Regions from separate parts of the Homo sapiens genome. Here region 1 is linked to region 2. The links come from fine-mapping of genetic effects on gene expression. A gene starts in region 2. The other region holds a variant in brackets. All regions are shown on one strand. Distances are between the middles of the regions. Region 1 has its middle 33 kb from the start of ZNF740. Region 2 holds the start of CSAD (cysteine sulfinic acid decarboxylase).

Region 1 (2,927 bases), 34 kb after region 2:
TTTTTTGAGACCGAGTTTCGCTCTTGTTGCCCAGGCTGGAGTGCAGTGGCCTAGGCTCACAGCAACCTCCAGCTCCCGGGTTCAAGTGATTCTCCTGCCTCAGCCTTCCTGAGTAGCTGGGATTACAGGCATGTGCCACCATGCCCGGCTAATTTTGTATTTTTAGTAGAGACAGGGTTTCTCCATGTTGGTCAGGCTGGTCTGGAACTCCCGACCTCAGATGATCCGCCCGCCTCGGCCTCCCAAAGTGCTGAGATTTCAGGTGTGAGCCACCACACCCGGCTGGAGGTTGGGTTTTGTATAAAGATGGCAGTGTTTTCACAACCCTTGATTTAGCATTAGCATTACAAGTTTCATAGAATTATGGCCCATGGAGGCTGAGGCAGGAGAATTGCTTGAACCCGGGAGACGGAGGTTGCGGTGAGGTGAGACAGCACCATTGCACTCCAGCCTGGGCGAAAGGCAAGACTCTGTCTCAAAGAAAAATAATAAAAAAAAAAAAAAATAAAGATAATGGCTATTCAGGACTGTTTCTTCTTAGGTAAACTTTGGTAGTTTTTGTCTGTTAAGAAATTTGTTTTGGCAGCCGGGCATGGTGGCTCACGCCTGTAATCCCAGAACTTTGGGAGGCTGAGGTGGGTGGATTGCTTTGAGCTCAGGAGTTTGAGACCAGCCTGGGCAACATGGTAAAACGTCATCTCTACCAAAAAAAAAAATACACACACACACACACACACACACACACACACATATACGTGTATATATACGCGTGTATATACGCGTGTATATAAGCGTGTATATACACGTATATATATACGTATATGTGTATAATACGTCTATATACGTATATATACATACACATATATACATACACACGTATACATGCATATATACACACATATATACATACATATATACATGTATACGTGTATGTATACATATATACGTATATATACATATATACGTGTATATATACATATATACATATACACATATGTGTGTGTATATACATATGCATATATGTGTGTATATATACATATACATATATGTGTGTATATACGTATACATACATGTGTATATATATACATGTACATACATGTGTATATATGTATACATGTACATATGTGTATTTAT[G/A]TACACATATGTACATATGTGTATTTATGTACACACATGTACATATGTGTATATATGTATACGCATGTACATATATGTGTATATATGTATACACATGTACATATATGTGTATTTATGTATACGCATGTACATATATGTGTATTTATGTACACGCATGTACATATATGTGTATTTATGTATACACATGTACATATATGTATTTATGCATACACATGTACATATGTGCACATACGTATACATACATGCACATATATGTGTATATATGTATACATATATGTATGTATATGTGCATATACGTATACATATGTGCACATATACATGTGTATACACATATGTATGTATATGTATATATACACATATATGTGTGTGTATATGTATATATACACATATATATGTGTGTAGGTGTGTATATGTATATATACACATATGTGTGTGTATGTGTGTGTGTATATATATATATGCACACACCCCTATATATATGTGTATGTATATATAACTAGCCAGGCTTTGGTGGCTTATGCCTGTAATCCCAGCACATGGGAGGCTGAGGCTGGAGAATTACTTGAGCCCAGGAAACAGAGGTTGCAGTGAGCTGAGATCGTGCCACTGCACTCCAGCCTAGGTGACAGAGTGAGATCCTGTTTCAAAAAAAGAAAGAAAGAAATTTGTCTTGGGGACACTGCCTATGAGGTAGCCCTGTTCCACAAGAAGCAGTTAAAAAAAAACAGTCTCTTTTCTTTCCTTTTTTTTTTGAGATGGGGTCTCACTCTATCTCCCAGGCTGGTCTCAAACTCCTGGGCTCAGGCAATTCTTCCATCTCAGCTCCCTGAGTAACTGAGACTACAGGAGCATGCTTCAAGCCTGGCTATTTTTTTTTTCTTGTAGAAATGGGGTCTTACTTTGTTGCCCACACTGGTCTCAAACTTCTGGCTTTAAGCGATCCTCCCGCTTCACTCTCCCAAGAGCTGAGATTACAGGCATGAGCCACCAAACCTGTCCAGAAATTTGTCTATTTCATCTACGTTTCAGCACTTATTGACATAAACTTATTTTCTTATTATCCTTTCAGTTCTGTAGAACCTATATTGTCACTTTTTTCATTTCTGATATTAATTATTTGTGTTTTCTCCCTTTTTTTTCTTCCTGTTCATTTTAGTGAGAGGTTTATTGCTGTGATGGTTGATTTTTTTTTTTGGTAGGGATGATGTGTTCTTTTTTTGTTGTTGTTTTTTGAGATGGAGTCTTGCTCTGTTGCCCAGGCTGGAGTGCAGTGGCATGATCTCGACTCACTGCAACCTCCACCTCCTGGGTTCAAGCAATTCCCCAGCCTCTGCCTCCCAAGTGGCTGGGACTACAGGTGCATGCCACCACTCCTGGCTAATTTTTGTATTTTGTTTTAGTAGAGACGGGGTTTCACTGTATTGGCCAGGTTGGTCTGGAACTTCTGATTTCAAGTGATCTGCCCACCCCAGTCCCCCAAAGTGCTGGGATTACAGGCGTGAGCCACCTCGCCTGGCCTGGGATGGTGTTTTGCTATGTTGGCCAGGCTGGGCTCAAATGAACCTCCTGCCTCAGCTTCCCAAAGTGCTGGGATTAGGGACATGAGCCCTAATGTCTGGCCTGTGACGGTTGATGTTGTATGTCAACTGGCCTAGGTTAGAGAGCTGGTAGACATTATTTCTGGGTGTGTCTGTGAGGCTGTCTCTAGAAGAGCTTGCATTTGAATTGCTGTACTGAGGAAAGAAGATCTGTCCTCATCAATGTGCAGGCATCATCCAATCACTGAGGGCTCA
Region 2 (2,927 bases):
CCGTACTATTCACTCCCTTACACCCCTCAGCACTTAATGTACCAAATGTAAACTGAGTACACGTTGCTTTGCAAATGTCCCATCAGTGCCTGTGATGCAGTATAGCCTACCTCCTTCATTTGACTGGAAGCTCCCTGAAGGCAGGGGCTGTGGCCTGTCTCCTTTCCTTCCTCTAGATCTCCCCCTGGTGCTTAATACAGAGCTTGGATCACTGGGGTTGGTCAATATGTTGACTAAGGCAGCATTCAAGAGTGAAACTGCAAACAGGCTTCCCAGTTATCTTGGAGGAGGACTCTAGAGCTTTTTACCTGAGCCATGCTGATTTCTCACTTAAGGCAACCCAAAAGTTCAGGAGTTCCTAGGTCCACCTTTCCTTGAGACACTGTCGTTTTGAAGAACTGTCACCAAATCACGGTAGCGACTCCTTCGTGTCCCATCAGTCCTGTTGCCATATTGAACTTTGTCTTCAAATAGAACTTAGTGTCCTCCGAAGAAAAGATAGGTGTTCCAAGAATCCCTGGACTCTGCCTGGCTCCTGCCTATTGTCTGAAGAAAAAGAGAGTCTACCAGTCTTGGTTTTCCAGTTGAATTCTCTTGATGAAGCTCACGATCTGTTTCAGAAACCTGAAACCAGAAAGGAAGAGGGGGGCTGCTAAATGCAACATCTTCAGGCCATTACAACGTGCGATATGAATTTTTTTTTTGCTGGGCGCTCTCTGTGAAGCTCAGAACGAGGACATGAGTCAAGAAGAGTTTTCTTTCTAGGTCAATAGGAGGAACTGGTCTCCTGGGCAAGGAGTGGAAGCCAACAGGAGCAAAAGTAATTGGGGCCTCCTATGGAGGAACTCTGCCAAAAGGAAAGTTGCTTGGATTTGCCATCTCAGGAATGGAAGAAGGGGGCGGAGACCCTTTGGGGCTTTTGTGCCCAGTGGGCCGGCCCGAAAAGCTCGCACTTTACAGAGGCGGCAAGACTAGGGTGGAGGAAAGCTCAAGGGCCATCGCTGGGTGCTTCGGTGGCGGGCAGAAACGGGACTGGCAGTGCCCACACGTGTGCGTTCTCCCCGTCCGCCCGAAGGTAGGGAAACTTGCTGCGGAGGTGGAGGACAGGCAGGCGAAGCCCGGCGCGGCGTGTCGCCCGCCTCGCTCCGGCCAGCCAGCCTCTGCACCCGCTGCACCAACCGGGAGCAGAGCCGGAGAGTGCCGAGAAGCGCGCGAGATGCGTGCTCGCGCCCGCGTCCCCTCCGAGAGCCCTCTCCCGGGCCGGGGACGCGGCGGGACGCGCGGGCAGGGGGCGGTGTGCGCGCACGGCCTTTCCCCTCCCTCCCCCGGAGATCCCCCTCCCTTCGCCACGCGCCCCTCCTCCCCTCCCCTCCCCCTTCCCGCGCGGCACCCCACGGCTTGCGAGCTACTGAAGCGCTGCCGTCTGTACGGACGACGCTGCGGTCTTTGGGGCTTGCTCCTACCTGCCAGGCGCGGCCTCCCGCTGGCTCCCTGGCCGCGCGGCGCCTCCTCCAGGCCCCAGCACACCCTGCCAACCCCACCGCCGCGGCTGCCCCCACCGGGACCGAGGCAAGTTTACAAACACCAACCCCGGCCCGTTTCCCCGGAAGCACTTCCCCCTCCCCCTCGTCCTCTCCGCCGAGCGGCTGCATCCACTTCCGGGCTCGGCAGCTAGACTAGCGGGGGCAGCCTCAGAGCGGGTGAGCTTGGGGACGCACGGAGAGGTGCAGCTGGGTGAGTGGGCGGCGCCGTGCGCCGAGGGCATGGAGGAGGGAGCGCTGAGGCCGGCGCGTGCGCCGTGGCCGGGGCGCGCCCCGGCCGCCATCGAGACTGAGGGCAGGACCCTCGGCCCTTCGATGATTGTACGCTGGGTGCTCGATGGGAGGAGGGTTTGCTGGGTGAGCTGGTTCAGACTCCTTGAAAAATCATCGTCACTCTTTCTTCCTCGCGGACGTCCTGCCCATCGCTCTGAGCCGGCGCCCCAAGTAGAGCCAGAGTAGTTCGTACCCAGCCTTTTCACGTAACTCGGCCGAGGTGGTTCTTCTCCGAATTTTTTCCGTCAGGCCCAGATTAGCAGATTTTGGGGTCAGCTGGGAGAGGCGTTAACTTTTCTTCGCACACTCTTGCTTTGTGCGCTCAACCACAGTCTGAATTCTCGCAGAGGCGTTCCTTGAGTAGCCCTTGGCCACACTGCTCACCTCCCTGCAGAAGTCAAAGCCCCAGCCCTCCTCTGCGAATCCCGAGGCCAGCCTGGTTGGTTACCTTCTCCCCTTCGCCCTTTACTCCAGGCCGTCCAGCATCAAACACTAGCCTCCACACGTGGAAAAGACCCTGACTCCCACAGTAGACTAGTCTTATGGGAGTCCTGGCTCTTGGGCCAGGCTGCATTAGGAAAATGGAAACCAGACTGTCTTCAAATTCTTCTGCCTAGCCTTAGCCATTAGAGAGAGGTCCTGCTAAAGATGGACTGCAAATGCGCTTGATGGAAGGAGATGTCAATTCCACTGAAGTCCTCATTTCTGCTGTAGGTGATATTATGTCGTGACTTTAGGAGAAGTAATGGTGATACCAAAAGAAAAAAAAAACTGTATGATGAAAAAAAGACAAGGATTCTCAACTTTTTTTTTTTTGTAGACAGATTTCATTTCCCTGAGCCACTCCATGATTTGGGCCATTGAAAGTACGTTTTTTGTGTTTTAGGATCATTCTAAAATAGAGACAAAATGGAGAAAGAGAGAGATAAAGAAACATCACCAGGAATAAGTCTTTTAAATCTTTTTTGAAAATTAGCTCCTACTTATTTTACAAATCGACACAACGCAAAAGTATAAAAGACACAAAATGGTTATTCTCCCCCTCTACTTATCCCATGCTCCTGAAGGGAATCATTCTTACCAGTTTGGTATATATGCTTTTAGGCTTTTTTC

The links. PIP is the estimated chance that this variant, and not a neighbour inherited with it, causes the effect.
Region 1: its variant is fine-mapped to the expression of CSAD in whole blood (TOPMed, PIP above 0.99).

Annotation. Positions count from the first base shown.
Region 1 is chr12:53,145,781-53,148,707 of GRCh38, reverse strand. No RefSeq gene overlaps it. Among named protein-coding and RNA genes, the nearest start is that of ZNF740, 33 kb to the left of the region's middle. The variant G/A (reference allele first, on the strand shown) is at 1,135.
Region 2 is chr12:53,179,374-53,182,300 of GRCh38, reverse strand. CSAD (cysteine sulfinic acid decarboxylase) reads left to right here and starts at 1,376. Exons shown (of 17, transcript NM_001244705.2): 1 at 1,376-1,569. It overlaps ZNF740 (zinc finger protein 740), which reads right to left and starts at 1,579. Exons shown (of 7, transcript NM_001004304.4): 1 at 1,464-1,579; 2 at 309-624. The coding sequence starts at 317. RefSeq lists silencers at 562-856, 1,210-1,509, 1,800-1,889 and an enhancer at 1,552-2,110.